Linked DNA regions of Homo sapiens. The protein of the gene in region 4 purifies or fractionates together with the protein of the main gene of each other region. This does not show direct contact. Each region holds a gene or a part of one and is shown on either strand. Other genes may lie near its edges.

Evidence for each region. Proteins that work in one complex are often made in the same cells at the same time.
Region 1: the proteins of PHF6 (region 4) and ARID2 purify together in Homo sapiens (affinity purification with western blotting, with the first as the bait; one study listed by BioGRID). This does not show direct contact.
Region 2: the proteins of PHF6 (region 4) and PIP4K2A purify together in Homo sapiens (affinity purification with mass spectrometry, with the first as the bait; one large-scale study listed by BioGRID). This does not show direct contact.
Region 3: the proteins of PHF6 (region 4) and TMA16 purify together in Homo sapiens (affinity purification with mass spectrometry, with the first as the bait; one large-scale study listed by BioGRID). This does not show direct contact.

The regions. Positions count from the first base shown.
Region 1 is NC_000012.12:45,844,534-45,848,405, forward strand, and holds part of ARID2 (AT-rich interactive domain-containing protein 2), read left to right. Parts: intron 1-898; exon of another isoform or gene 899-1,007; intron 1,008-2,322; coding exon 2,323-2,404; intron 2,405-3,872. UniProt on the Homo sapiens protein: Involved in transcriptional activation and repression of select genes by chromatin remodeling (alteration of DNA-nucleosome topology). Required for the stability of the SWI/SNF chromatin remodeling complex SWI/SNF-B (PBAF).
Region 2 is NC_000010.11:22,704,379-22,708,250, reverse strand, and holds part of PIP4K2A (phosphatidylinositol 5-phosphate 4-kinase type-2 alpha), read left to right. Parts: intron 1-2,825; exon of another isoform or gene 2,826-3,872. UniProt on the Homo sapiens protein: Catalyzes the phosphorylation of phosphatidylinositol 5-phosphate (PtdIns5P) on the fourth hydroxyl of the myo-inositol ring, to form phosphatidylinositol 4,5-bisphosphate (PtdIns(4,5)P2). Has both ATP- and GTP-dependent kinase activities.
Region 3 is NC_000004.12:163,504,518-163,508,389, reverse strand, and holds part of TMA16 (translation machinery-associated protein 16), read right to left. Parts: intron 1,358-3,872; coding exon 1,245-1,357; intron 1-1,244. UniProt on the Homo sapiens protein: Involved in the biogenesis of the 60S ribosomal subunit in the nucleus.
Region 4 is NC_000023.11:134,393,810-134,397,681, forward strand, and holds part of PHF6 (PHD finger protein 6), read left to right. Parts: intron 1-99; coding exon 100-143; intron 144-3,872.

The sequences.
Region 1 (3,872 bases), on a different chromosome or scaffold from region 4:
GGTATTGACAGGAAGCTATACCAATAATACCTTGGTTAAGAGGCTTCATGGATACTAATGTTTCTAATTCTCTCTTTAGTGTTCCACGTTACACTATAACAATAATAATAGTAGCTAGCGTTTATATAGTGCTTACTTTGTGCTAGGCATTATTTTAAGTGACTTGCACATAATCTAATCCTTATAGCAACATACGAGGTTAGTGTACTGTTACTTTCCTCCATTGTATGGACAGAGTTATTTTGCTCATAGTTACACAGCTAGCTAGTGAGTGATGGAATTCTCTGGCTCTGGATTTATGCATTTAACCATAATGCATAATCCTGCAGAGCTATCAAAGATGGGTGAGAATTAAGTCATTTGATTCCAAAATGAGAGAAAAAATTATCAAAGAGGAGGTGATATTCTCATGCAAAGCAGTTTTAGGAAGAATACATAAGAAAGTTGAGTATCTGGAAATTGATTCAAAGTATAAGCACCTTCATTTAGAATGTCTTCAGGTATCCTGAGGGCAGTGCTCCTCAGTTTGTGGCTACTTTTTATAGTAATTATGTTTCCAGTTTAAATTCCCATTTGTGATTTTATTCCTCTTTCTACATTGTTTATAAAGACTTCTCATGATTTCAACGTAATTTCTAGTGTTTCATGAAATTGATTGCTAATTCATTCAGGAAATTTCAGTCTAAGTAGGGTATGCTCTTTCATAGTAGAGATGATAAAGGGAGGAAGATTTCTACACAGTTTCAGGCCCTAGAAAGTATTTTCTGTATTAATATCGTCAACTTAGAAGGGGAAGAAAAGATAAGCTAGGATTGCCAACAGGAAAAATTATTTTTGTTCTAACTGTTGCATTATCTCAAGGAGCATATAATAGTATGGCCTCTAAAATGTGACAGACCTGGATTCAAATCCAACACTTTTAAAAGAAGTCCTTCCAAGTATACCCAGCTCTGCTATCTCCACCGTGTTCCTGGCTGAACTTAATCTCTGAGCTTTAGTTTTCTGATCTGTAAAATAGGTATAATTAAACTTAGACTTAAAAGATTAAAATATATAATGTAAATATAAATGGATTTATACAGAGTATATGTTTATTAAATGGCTACAATTAGCTGTTACCTCAAAGAAAGCATGGGGCATTCATCAAAGGTTATGATTGCCTCAGATCATTCACACATTTGGCTGTACTATGGAGCTTGCCTAGTTCCAATAATTTTAAAATGCATTTGTTCTGTTTGAGGGTTCTGAGAAGCTTTGCTAAAATATCATCTGAAAAAAATTGTGTATAATCTGTGTGCTTAAAAACTACATTGCCGTGTCACATAGCAAGTTTTCTAAAAACCTACAAAGTAATGCTGATCAATAGTGAAAAAAGGATAATTAATTTTTATTTACAAATATATGATTCAGACTTATAATTTATAATATGACTTTATACTTTTCATGTTTTCCTTAGTTCCTTTGTATAACATAGGGGAGAAGAAAAGGTAACATACATCATTTTTCTACAGATCTCTTCAACATGTTAGAAAATAATAGGTGATTTACTCATTTATTCATTGACCTTGAAACTTTTAGAATATGTCATAGATGCAACTTTAGAAAGTATGTGTCTTAAGATTAATAGCTAGTACATTTGTATACAACCAGGTTGCCTCTTTCAGGAAAAAAGTATAATTCAAATTTATTATTACAACAGATATCTTCTTTTTTTCTTCCCCAGAAAAATTATGGAAATCCTTTTTTGAATATGGGACTTTAAATTAGTTCAGCTTTTGTTCACTGTATTCCAAAAATTTTATATATGCCACTTACAGAGTTATTAATCTTTTAAATTAGGGAGTGAAGCCATAATTTCAGCTGCGTTCTGCTTCCGTAGCTAAACGGAAAGATGCTCAACTTACGTGTTGAACTGTATGACCCTGGGCCAGTTTTTTAAATCACTTTGAGTCTCAGTTTTCTTATCTGTACCTACCTCACAGAAGAATTAAGTAAGCAGATATTGTAAAGTATTTAGTTCAGTGTCTTGCCCATGGGAATAACAGAGGTTATATTAACTAAATCATCCATATTAATTGTTATTATTTTAATGATTGTGAGGTTAAACAAAATAGTTCATATGAATCCTCTAAGACAGTGCCTGGTATGATATGTGCTCCATTATATATTAGGTTTGTTCTCAAATGTGTATACTTTCATATGTTTATACACCTTTTAAAAAGGTATTCATTGTGTTAATGGGTTCAATATCCATAAAAAAAAGTATGGCAAATAGTGACTAACTTTTAAGAAATGATGTAGCTAATGTATTTTTTTCTTTAGCTTCCAGAGCAGTTGTAGCGCAGCATGTTGCTCCACCTCCAGGAATAGTGGAAATAGATAGTGAGAAGTTTGCTTGTCAGTGGTAAGTGGTTTATTTCTATTAAGGATTTATCCTTGGGAGGAGTAAAGCAAAGAAAAAAAGGAAATGTATTCTACAGACATCCAGAATGTTTTGTTCTGTATTCCTTTTTAGTTAGAGTAGAATATCATTTACACAAAGAAAGGACACTTTAAAATCCCCTTGTATATTGGAATAATTTGAAAGAAAAATATTCATCAGAATTTTCAGAATTAAAATAGTATGACTAGAATGTCATTAAATTACACCATTTAACTTTTTTCAGAGTAAAATTTGTGTTAAAAAGTTATCTTTCACTTTGTAGAAAGTACAGTTTGTCAGGTTACAAAATTTGTTCTTCTAAAATTAACATTTTGTTAAAACTGAATTGGACTGACCTTAAGAAAATAAAAGCAGGTGTTTTAAAATGTCTCTTCTCTTCCATCTAAAACAAAACTTCTTATTCTTTAATAATTTTTGGGTTTGTAATAGTAGACGGACATTAATCAAATGATAGAACAGAAATAAGCAGCTTGACAATAATATTTCCTTGAAAAGATTGTGTAGTCCTATCTGCACCACTTTCTGAAAAAAAGCAAATGAAGAGTTTTAAAAATTTCACTTGTTATGGATAGTTGCCTCAACATTAGTATGAAGTTCGGCTTAAATTCTTTAGAAGATTAACAGATTGAATTACACAATCACTTTCCAATGATATATCACTTTAAAAATTTCTTGATCACTTTTCTGCCATTCACTAACATTATTTGTCTCCCATTTCATGCTCCTGTCACTCTTTGTTCCGTATTTTTGGTGCTTTCAATACATTTTTGTTCCTATGACAGTTTTCTCCAGACTTTTCTACTTTGCTTAAATCGGGTTTATGGTTTTAAATATCTCTAATTGTTTGCTTTTTCCTCACCTTCTATATTTTTACACATTGGCCCCTTACACTTGAATCTTTTCCAGTAATATTTGGAAATGTTGTTTGTCTTCTACATTGCAACCAAAATGAAGTTTTTATATCTAGTCTTTTTGAAATTTCAGTACAGACAGGATTATGAAAGTTGGAAAGAATACACACCATAACCACTATAAAATGTGTATGTGTTAAGCATAGATTTGGTCTTATAAATCCCAGTTGCACGTTTCTGCTATTTCTTGGAGAGGGGGAAGAGAATCATTTTACAGTTTTTTTTTTAAATCATAATTACTATTTGATTTAGTTTTTCAGAAAAACTAAGTTTAGCCTATTATACATAGTGAGTTATGGAAAGAGCCTATCAGGGTAATCAGGCCTCCAATCCCAATTTATAGGTAAAGGTCATTTTAAGAAAAAGACAAAATGAGGTTTGAATTAGTTTGTAATGGATTACAAATTAAAACTGTTTTGAAATGGGGAAATGGGAGTGTGCAGCATGGAAAGTGTCATTGTTTTAGGAAGTAGCTGAAAAGCTTGGATAAGTTTTTTCTGAAGGAATTTGATCCAAGA
Region 2 (3,872 bases), on a different chromosome or scaffold from region 4:
GTGCTTGTGGTTGATTGCGGGTGGCTGTGAAAGCTTAAAGACTTAAGGAGTGAATGAGTGGAAGTAGAGGCAATTCCTCTTTTTTGGAAGGTAAGTAGAAGGAAGGTGAAAGATGCCATTTTGTTAGGAATCCCTGGGGAGTTTCCTTGAATCCGTCTCTTCGTTTCCATTCTCACTTCTGTCACTCCTAACCAGATTTGTTTCCCTCTTTCCTAGACTGATATTAAACCCCCCTAGCTTATTTCCCTGTGTCTGCCTTTATCCTCATTTCTTTTCTTTTTTGTACTAGGAACTCCTATGGCAGTCCAGTGAAGGCCATAGACTCCTCAGAATGAGGCTTTTAAAGGAATAAATGAAAATACAGAGGATATGTCCTAGCAAGTTCAAGGATCCTTTTAATTCTATCCATGGACCACTTGGGAGTTCATGGAACCCCATCAAGAACCCTTGCAAGAATAAGATGGGGATAGTGTGGGGTGAGAAAGTGGGGAGAGCACGCAGCAGCCAGGAAGAATTCTTGGGGGGGAACACGCATAGGCTGAATTGATTACCCGCCTGGGTCACAGTGCCTAGTACTTGGGATTCACAACGGTACCGTTAACCACTGAGCTGTGCTGCCTGGGCCAAGCTCAGGAATCATTCATTTCTTTGAGTTCTTTTATTTTCTTAGTCTTAAGAGCTGTTCTTCTTGGATGGACAGAGTATTAGCTGTTAACATGGGAGAAAACTACTTGAAAACCAGTTTTTCCCTTCATAGAAAGAAAATCATTGTTAATGTTCAGAGCATGTAGGGAGAGAACCAGTACATAATTTATTTAAGAAAAATGTTGTAGGGAGTTTTAAAACAGTAACTTACCTAAAGCTAAGCCTCACAATTCTAAATCTTTATAGTTTTTCAGCTACCTGGGCACAGTGATTAAGAGCTCTGGAGTCCTTGTTCGGTTGGCTATGTGACCTTGAACAAGTTATTTTGCCTCTCAGTTCCTTGATTATAAAAGGAGGTAATAATGGTACCTACTTTGGAAGTTTGTTATATGGATTAAATCAATTCATACTTGTAAGATGCCTAAATAGTTGCTGGCACATGGTAAGTTCTTAATGTGCTAGCTGTCATTATTACTATCCTTTAAAATAGAGACAGGGTCTTGCTGTATTGGCCAGGCTGGTCTCAAACTTCTGACCTCAAGCAATCCTCTCACCTCAGCCTCCCAAAGTGCTGGAAATAGAGCCTTGAGCCACCATGCCTATCCTATTTTTTTTTTTAATATCTTAAATGCTAAGAGGTAGCAAATTATCAGATTGTATGCTAAATCAATGGTTACTTTATCCTGTTTTGTAGTAGAACATCATCGTTGTTCTTGGCATCCTTGTGTATTTTTGAGTTATGAATTATCATTTTAGAATTACCCTTGTGCCCTTGCTTTGCTTTCTGTATCTATTTTGTTATGTTCTTTCTTGTATTTTTCACACTTCCACTAGCGATTAGGTTCTTTGAAGTGTCAGAAATCTAATTCACATCCATTAGTTGCAAGTTATGTCAGCTATTGACTTGATATTTCACCTTGTCTTTAAATATGGAGACACTGCAAGATGCTTCAGATGCAAAATGAATATATTGTGGACCTTGCTCTCAAATTGTGCATAACTACAGGGGACACAGACGTAAAATAAATATATGTGTAAATAACTACAGTGTCCAGAATGCTAGGGGTGGAAGGTATTAAATAGACCGTGCAGAACATTGAGCAAAGGCATGACGTCGGTGAAGGGCTTAGACATGAGGCAGTTTGGGAGAAGAGCATTTCAGGCGGAGGGGTCAGCTGGTGCAAAGGCCGTGAGGCTGGTGTTTGCTTGGCTTGTTATGGCAACTGCAGGAAAGCTGGCATGGCTGGAGCACAGCAAGAGGGGGATATAGTGGTAGGAGATCTGCCAAGGTGCTAACCAGGACTGGATCATGATTACTTCTGCCTGGGGGACTTGGAGAATCCTTGAGAGGAGGTAACAATGAGGAGGACCTTGAGGATTAGATAGAATCTCCCAGCTGCAGAAGATGGGTGATATGGTTTGGCTGTGTCCCCACTCAAATCTAATCTTGAATTGTACCCATAATCCCCAGGTGTTGTGGGTGGATCAGCTGGAGATAATTGAATCATGGGGGCAGTTTTCCCCATCGTATTCTCGTGATAGTTAGTTCTCACGAGACCTAATGATTTTAAATAAGGAGCTTCTCCTTTTGCTGGGTGTTCATTCTTCTGCTTGCTGCTGCCATGTGAAGAAGGATGTGTTTGCTTCCCCTTCTGCCATGATCGTAAGTTTCTTGAGGTCTCCCCAGCCCTGCAGAACTGAGTCAGTTAAACCTCTTTCCTTTATAAATTACCCAGTCTTGGGTATTTCTTCACAGCAGCGTGAGAACAGACTAATACAATGGGGAAAGGCATATGCAGCTGAGGGTCCGACAGCGGGCAAAACCAAGCAGAGCGGAGAATGTGAGTAGTTGGCTTTGGGTGTGGCCACAGTGGCAGAACCCAGTAACATGTTAGAAATGCAGAGCTTGGGCCTCTGCAGACCTGCTGGAGCAGAATGTACATTTTAACAAGACATGTTGATCGTCAGCATATTTAAGTCTGAGAAACACCCATCAGGGTAAATCTTTGGTTTCAAGCCCTGAGATTCCTTAGATGTGCCTCAGGGGCTGGTGGGAGGGGGCCAAGCTGGTGGGGGAATTTAGGCCTACCTCAGTTTCCTCCAGAACAGCCTTGTTTTTGTCCTCATTGTCATCTCTCTGTCCTTTTTTTTTTTTTTTTTTTTTTTTTTTTTTTTTTTTAACTGGGGTACTGAATATAATACGTAAAGGGGGTAAAAAAGATCCTGCAGCCAAGAAAATTGAAAACCACAGAGGAACATAAAGGGAGTGTCAGGAGATGGTTGAAAGAGTAGTTTGAGGCCACCTTTGAAGGGCCAAGTGGTTGATGTTTGCCAGAGAAAAGCCAGCAGTTCTGACCAGGGTTACTTTAAAATTTGCCACAAATCTCAAATGACACTCGACCCGGAAGTGTTACTGCCTCCTTTAATATGTTCTCCACTCTCTGAAGTCATTTCTTCCTTTTCACTTCTCCTTGAACTTCACCTAGTGTCCTGTCCCCCACTTCCCCCACCCCGTCCTTCCCTCAGCATATAACCTCATTTAGAAAGCATTGAACAAATAGAAGCCGTCAGCTTCCACTCTTCCCACCATCCCATCTAAATTTTGGACAGCTGGGTCCGTCAGTCTACAGACATGCTGGAGGGGCTGCCCTGCCTGGTTTTGTAGCTGCTAGCTATATATGGCAATTTAAATTTCAGCTAATAAAACTTAAAATTCAGTTTCTCATATCAAGTGCTCACTAGCCACATGTGGTTAGTGGTTACTGGATTGAACAGTGCAGATATAGACGATTCCCACCATTGCAGTGTCTTCCACTGACATGGCTCACCATTCCGGGGCCGCCCATCTTGAAAGCAAAATAAACTACAGTAACAGCAGAAGCTCTCCTTCACCCTTAGTCTCTCATTTTAGTGTCTTCTCGTGTTTTCTGTTCCTTTTTTTTTTTTTTTTTTTTCAGATGAGGTCTTGCTTTTTGGCCTGGGCTGGAGTGCATGGTGCAATCATGGCTCACTGCTGCCTCAAACTCCTGGTCTCAAGCAGTCCTGCTTCAGACTCCCTAAGTGCTGGGATTATACATGTGAGCTACCACACCTGCCCTGTTCCTTTTCATAGCAGGAGTGAAAAGCCTTGTCTAAAGCTGAGGTCTCCTATTTCTATAGAGACACCGTACCTGGCAACCGTCAACTTACCTGCGATGATCTCCTTAACTTACCCCAATCTAGCTTTC
Region 3 (3,872 bases), on a different chromosome or scaffold from region 4:
GTGTGGTCCCTAAACCAGCAGCAACAGCACCAGCATTACCTGGAGACTTGTTGGAAGTGGAAACCCTTAAGCCAGAAACCCAAACCTTCAGAATAGAAAATTCTAGGGGTTGGAACAAACAGTTTTAATAAGTTCTACAGATGTATTTCATGTACTTAAGTTTGCAAAATACTGATATATATGAGAGCAGAAACTGCAAAATCACAGTACTAATAAATCATATTAAAAAGATACAGCAAAAATCATAAAAGTGATGCATAAATAGCTGAAGTTTGAAAACTACTGTGCTAAAGCAAAACTGCTATCATCACAGTAAATCTTTATGTTGAAAAAAATAAAAAACTACCCTGCAGAAAATAAAGAAAATTTGACTCTGCTATCACAACACTTATTTCCTTCTAGCCAAATCACTGTGAAACAGGTAACCTTTACTATATAAAGCTTATCTTAAGCAAAGAATCAACATTTAAAAATATACTGGCTTCCATTATCTGGTATGCAAATGTATCTAACATTCATGAAAATGGCAAGGGCATTCTAAAATAGTCAAAACGATGATGTTTATTTGAACTTCACTTCATTTTAAGGAATCTTTGAAACAGCCTTCTTTCTCCTCCTTCTCAGTCTCACTTGTGGAATGCTCCTTCTTTTCCTAACCTCTAAATGGTAGAGGGCCACTGAACTCAGTAATTGGCTCTCTTCTCTTTCCTGTCAACAGTTACTCCTTAGGTGAACTGATCCTATCCAGTCTCACGGCTTGAAATCCCACATGGATGCTGATCGCTCCCAAATTTGTGTCAATACCCCTAACCTATTCTCTGAACACTAGACTCAACATATCTAACTATCCATTCCATATCTCCTCTTACATGTCTCATGGGCACTTTAACCTACATGCCTTATATACAGACCTCACATTTTTCAACTCTCTGTTCAAATGTAACTTCTTCAGAGAAGGCTTCCATGACTATCCCACGTAAAACAACTTCTCCCTCACTGTCCATCCCATAACTTTTTAAATTTTTCATGGCACTCATCACCTACTGCTACATAAATTACTTATCTGTTTTAGGTAAGCTCTAAAAGAGTAGAGTCCTTGTTCAGTTTCACCCTCTGCATACAGAACACACTTAATAAATATTTATGAAAGGGAGACAATACTGTGAAAGGATATATGTTTGAAAGATAAAAGTATAAAGGGGCTTTTTACCAACGAGTAATACAAATGATGAAAAGATACTTACTTTTCCTTTTTTTCTTGTTTGTGGGCCTCTCTCGTAATTTGAGCTGCTTTTCTACTATATGGATGGATGACTTTTTTTTCCCGTCCTGCACTTTTTCCCTTTGGTGCTTTGGGCTAAAATGTATGAAAACACATGACACATATAGTCAGATATGTAAGTGCCTTCAGTCCCAAAAATATTCTTTACAAATAAATTTTAAAAACAGTAATATGACAGAAATACAGTAAGCTAAAACTATTACAAGAAAAATCAGGAGATAAGCCAGGATCATTAAATAATTCTAATAATCTGTTGCCATGGTAATGACAGAAACGATATATTCAGAGGTGCTCTCCAATGACAGAAGAAAGGCACAGAAGGAGTCAATAAACTCAGCTCTTCAACAACATGTTCTATCTTCAAAGAAGATACAGGGACTACAGATAGTGAGGAGACTCACAGCCAGAAATTTGTTACAGTTAAGAAAATTAAGGGGTCAGAAGGGACTTGGATTATTAGTAGGGGCTTGATTGTAGATGTTTCACATGGAACAAAGCGGGCAATGAATCATGCAAAATCAAAGCTGGGCTCATTGCCTGTACAAATTAGGAATAGAGAAAATAATAGAAGCCATCTCAAAATTAGTATATCCAAAAGGAAAAATGTATCATTTTCCCACTGAAGCCTTATGCCAGTTAATCAGCCCACAATTCATTAGGTCCTCCAAACTAGACATCTCAGGTTTCTTTTATTCCTACATAATCCTGTATCTTACCTCACCTATAATGATCTAGGAATCATATTTGGCTCTCTGTAATAAAAACCCCAAATAATGGCATAACCCAGCTTAAGTTTGGTTCTTTATTGTTAAAAGTAGGAGCTGAAGGTTCTGTTCCACAAAGCCCTTAGGGATCCAGGATCCTTCCATTTTTTTGTCTACTAGCCTCAGGCTATACCTCCTATCTAGTTCAAGACAGCCTAATACCAGGTCTACACTCAAGCCAGTATGAAGTAGGAAAAGAAAAATCTGAAGGTACATCCCCTTTTTTTAAGAGCATGACCTGGGAAGTTGCAGATCCTTTTGCTCACATCCCACTGACCAAAATTTATTCACAGTGTTACATAAGGGAGAGTAGTAAATATAATCCTTATTCTGTGAGAAAAAGATCCATTCATATAGAAAAACAGAAAGAATACATTAGGGGACAGCTGGCAGTCTCCAACATACCTATTCCAGAAAAAGGCCAAGTGGCTTTACACTCTTCTTCAAAATTATTGTCAATTGCTTAATTCAATCCTCAGAATCTTTCATAATCAGGATAGTCTTTAGATTCTCCCCACTAGTCCTTTCTTCGGCAAAGCTACAGAGCTTGTCTTCATAAAACACTAATATAGTAAAGTCCCTCTCCCCTGCTTAAAGTGCTCTACTAGCTCACAGTTAGGTCCCAAGTCTTTAGCACAGAAACAATCTAGCCCCAACCTGCTTCTCCACCATTATTTCCCATGCTCCTCTATAAAAGATTCTTCACGCCATTCTTACTGAACTTCTCACCATTCCAGAACATACCAAGCTATTTCATAACTTCTTGAGACTGCACTTGTTATTACCTCTGCCTGCAAAATACTTTACTTGCCCTTTGATAAGATGCAGTTCAAAATTACTTCCTTTGTAAAACTAGGCAGAACTATTTAAAATAACCACAAATTCCTCATTCACAAATATATTCATTCTTTCAACACTCATTGAGCGCTCTGCTCGCTTTCTGATAAACCTGAGAAGATATATCCACATCTGAATCTTAAGGTATCACTGGAAGTTGGTTACAGGTATAGGAAAATATGTAGAACCATCATATAAGAGTATATGTACTCTTTTATGTATCTCTCTGCTCACATGGCAAGTGCAGAGGAGAAAGGCAGGTGTAATGAGGAATTTTTGAGATTAAAGTACCTAGCAAACATGAATCAAGTAAAAACTTTCAGGACATTTGGCAGGCTGCCTCTAAGATGGACCCAATAAACCCCACCTCCTGATCCTCATGCCCTTATGGAATCCCCTCCTTTTGAATGTGGGCTGGACCTACCGACTCACTTTTAATGAAGAGCATTTAGCAAAAGCAATGAAATGCCAATTCTGAGATTAGGTTATCAAAGAAGTCTGGCTTCCATCTTTCCCCCTCTCATGGAAACCAGCTGTCCTGTAGTGAGCTGCCATATGGAGGGGCCACATGACAAATAACTGAGGGAGGCCTCCAGACAACAGCTAGTGAAGAAGTGAGGCCTGCAGTTCAACAGTCCACGAGGAGCTGAATCCTACCAAGAACCAGCTTAACAATCCTACCAACAGCAAGCTTAGAGGCAGATCCTCAGCCAAGCATGGTGGCTCATGCCTGTAATCCCAGCACTCTGGGAGGCTGAGGCAGGTGGAATCACTTGTGGCCTGGAGTTCAAGTCCAGCCTGGCCAACATAGCAAAACTCCATCTCTACTAAAAATATAAAAATGTGCTGGGTGTGGTGACACATGCCTGTAATCCCATCTATTCAAGAGGCTGAGGTGGGAGGATAGCTTGAACTACGGAGGTGGAGACTGCAGCGAGCATAGATGGCACCACTGCACTCTAGCCTGGGCAACAGGGTCAGACTCTGCC
Region 4 (3,872 bases):
GCTAGTGAATTGGGTGAAGTGTACTGCTCGTTTTCTTAATTTGAAAAGTGAGTTTAATTTAGTTTGCTTACTAATTTTTGATTTCTTCATTTTTTATAGGGTCTATTGCCGAAAACACAAGAAAACTGCACATAACTCCGAAGGTACATCATTTAGCCACGTTTCAGCCACTTTTCAGTTTCAAGAAGAAATTTGAGTACAGATTAGTGAATTATACTATATTAATTTTAACCATAAGACATATCTCAACATTCAGTACATTTAGAAGAATTGAGAAAAGTGTTAGGATAAACTAATGTGCATAGTGAAAAAGATCTGAACTTCTTTTTTTTTTTTTTTCCTGAAACGAAGTCTTGCTCTGTCGCCCAGGCTGGAGTACAGTGGTGTGATCACAGCTTACTGCAACCTCTACCTTTCAGGTTCGAGCAATTTTCCTGCCTCAGCCTCCTGAGTAGCTGGGATTACAGACGTGCACTGCAATGCCCAGCTAATTTTTGTATTTTTAATAGAGATGGGGTTTCACTGTGTTGGCCAGGCTGGTCTTGAACTCTTGACCTCGTGATCCACCTGCCTCAGCCTCCCAAAGTGCTGGGATTACAGGCGTGAGCCATCGTGCCCGACCAAGATCTGAACTTTTAAGAAAACTTTTACCCCAAAGTCCTTGTAAAGTATATGCTGAAAATCTATCTTTAGTAAGAAATTATGCTGGTGGCTGCGTGTTTCATTTCTTTGTGTTTTTTTTTTTTTGTGAGACAGAGTCTCGCTGTGTTGCCCAGGCTGGAGTGCAGTGGCGTGATCTTGGCTCACTGCAAGCTCCGCCTCCCGGGTTCACATCATTCTCTGCCTCAGCCTCCCGAGTAGCTGGGACTACAGGTGCCCGCCACCACGCCTGGCTAATTTTTTGTATTTTTAGTAGAGATGGGGTTTCACCGTGTTAGCCAGGATGGTCTTGATCTCTTGACCTCGTGATCCGCCTGCCTTGGCCTCCCAAAGTGCTGGGATTACAGGCGTGAGCCACTGCGCCCGGCCTCGTTTCTTTTCTGTTTTCTTTTTCTTTTTTTTTTTTGAGACGGAATCTCGCTCTGTTGCCCAGAGTGCAGTGGCACAATCTCGGCTCACTGCAACCTCTGCCTCCTGGGTTCAAGCGATTCTCCTGCCTCGGCCTCCTGAGTAGCTGGGATTACAAGCACCCGCCACTACGCTTGGCTAATTTTTGTATGTTTAGTAGAGACGGGATTTCACCATGTTGGCCAGGCTGGTCTGGAACTCCTGACCTCAGGTGATCCACTCACCTCGGCCTCCCAAAGTGCTGGGATTACAGGCGTGAGCCACTGTGCTCGGCCAGCTGCGTGTTTCTTTAAGGATGATAAATGGGATCCTTGATACTGTCATATTATAAATGATGTGAGCTTGGTAATAGTAGTACATTTTGTGATCACCAGGCTTTCTGTTATATTTTTATTCACATCTGTAGTACTTTAAAAAATGCCAATGTGTTAATAAGTAACCAAATTTAAAATACAAACTTTAAAAATTATTTAATAGTTTGTTTCTACTTAAATTTATATAAAACCAGGTTAGTCATGTTTATATATAGTTAGCCAAGTTGAACTTGGTCTGTAAAAAGTATGCGAAAACTCTGATACTGAGTTCTGACTTGTTTCAAACCTTTTCAAACAGATGGTTTTGATACTTTTACTAGCAATATAAAATGGCTTAGATGTAATCTGCGATTGTTCTATCCCTTCATTTAGATTAGAGATCTTTAAAATTTTTGTTCGCTTTTGAGAATATGTTGCTTAGAATTATAATGGTTTGAGCACTGTTGTTTTAGGAAGCTGTTTCTTTTATGAAGATTTACCTAATTATTGGTATTCGCATGTTAAAATTGGTGGCCCTTTTTGATCTCTAGATCTTGGCTTTTATAATACAAAACAATATAGTTTCCACTTCTGGACTCGAGATTAGTCCAGATACTTTAAAGTGTTGGTTAAAAATACAGTCGTTAGCAAAATCTAGTCTTTAAGGTAAACATGCTGGATAAATAATAATTTTTTTGAGGTGATAAAATATGACGGAAAAAACCTTAGTAGTGCTTTTCTTCTGTTTTCTCCTCACTGAATTCTAGAATTGAATTGGAAAATCCTTTGTGAAAGATTGAGTACGCTTTTCCACCTTCCATTATTTCAGATTTTAACAGTGCATTTATTTCATTCTCTTTAAGACTGTAGTGGCCCTATATGGTTTTTTTCTTAATCTATTTTTAATTTTTGTGAGTACAGAGTAGGTGTGTATTTATGGGGTACATGAGATATTTTGATACAGGCACACAATGTGAAATAAGTACATCATGGAGAATGGGGTATCCATCCCTATTTCAAACAATCCAAGTTAAGCTGAGGATTGAGACTATGTTATGCTGTATGTTAAGCTGAGAATTGAGACTCATGATCTGATGAATACAAGTATGAGCACACTGAGACAGGATATTTGAGATAATTAAGAAGGATGATTAATATATACTGATTATGTAGATAGCTCCCATTTTATTCCCTGGATTTCTGAAGCTGACAGTACCATCTAGTGGTAGGGAGAAGTCACTGCAAACTATATAAAGTAGAATAATTTTGGCCATGTTTTAGCACTGTGACACTTAATAGAGATCTAAATTCATACTTTTCAAGACAACTTTTCTTTTACTGTAACTGGCAGCATTATTATAACTTCAGATTTGTGCTACAATTAATTTGAATTTGGGATTCGATGTGTACGTCTATAGAACAATGGGCGGGGGGCTTGTATCATTTTTATATATAGTGTGTTTATACTCATTGTGGACCTTGAAAGAATAATTTTATAATTTAAAGTATTAAAGCTTTATATTTATTGATTTCTGGCTTTTATCACATTGATCTAGCTCAAATTTAGTTGATTTTGAGTGCTTTGTCAGAAACAGAACTTCCAATTATTCCATTGTTCTAATGGGAAACATATGTTCTCCTTTACGATCATGGTTTATGATGGGAGGTTATAGGATTGTATTTCAGGGACTGTCTTTTAAGAATTGTACTGCACTAAAAAAAAAAAAAAAAGAATTGTACTGCACTAGTCTCCAGAACAAAGATGAATTAATATCTATGGTAATGTCTTGGTCATTTGCCATCTGTGGCTCAATACTTACTTTGCTAATACTTAATATGATAAATGCTATTAATATATAATTCATTCTGCCATGTTAGCTTTATATAAAATGAGCTGTTTTGAAATATTAAATTTGAGAATAATTGCATAATATAGCAATTCAATTTTCCCATCACAAATAAAATATTATTGAATATTAAATACCTAAAACCTATGTCATCAGTTTTGCTTCAGGAAAAAATGGACTGTGAATTTGAAAAGCAATTTTAAAAATCTATATGGAGTTTATAACTATCATTATGTCACTAGGTTATTAGAATGCCCGTCCCAGGAACTGTATGTATTTACCTGTTAGTGGTGATGGGCTTAGATAAGTTGCCTATAAAATGATTCGAAACATATAAGAAAGCATTTCTGGGCTGGCACGGTGGCTCACTCCTGTAATCCCAGCACTTTGGGAGGCCAAGGCTGGTGGATCACCTGAGGTCAGGAGTTGGAGACCAGCCTGGCCAACATGGTGAAACCCCGTCTCTACTAAAAATACAAAAATTAGCTGGGTATGGTGGCACACATCTGTAATCCCAGCTACTCAGGAGGCTGAAGCGGGAGAATTGCTTGAACCCAGGAGGCGGAGGTTGCAGTGAACTGAGATTACGCCATTTGCACTCCAGCCTGGGTGACAGAGCAAGACTTGGTCTCCAAAATAAAAAGAAAGCATTTCTGATAAAAAA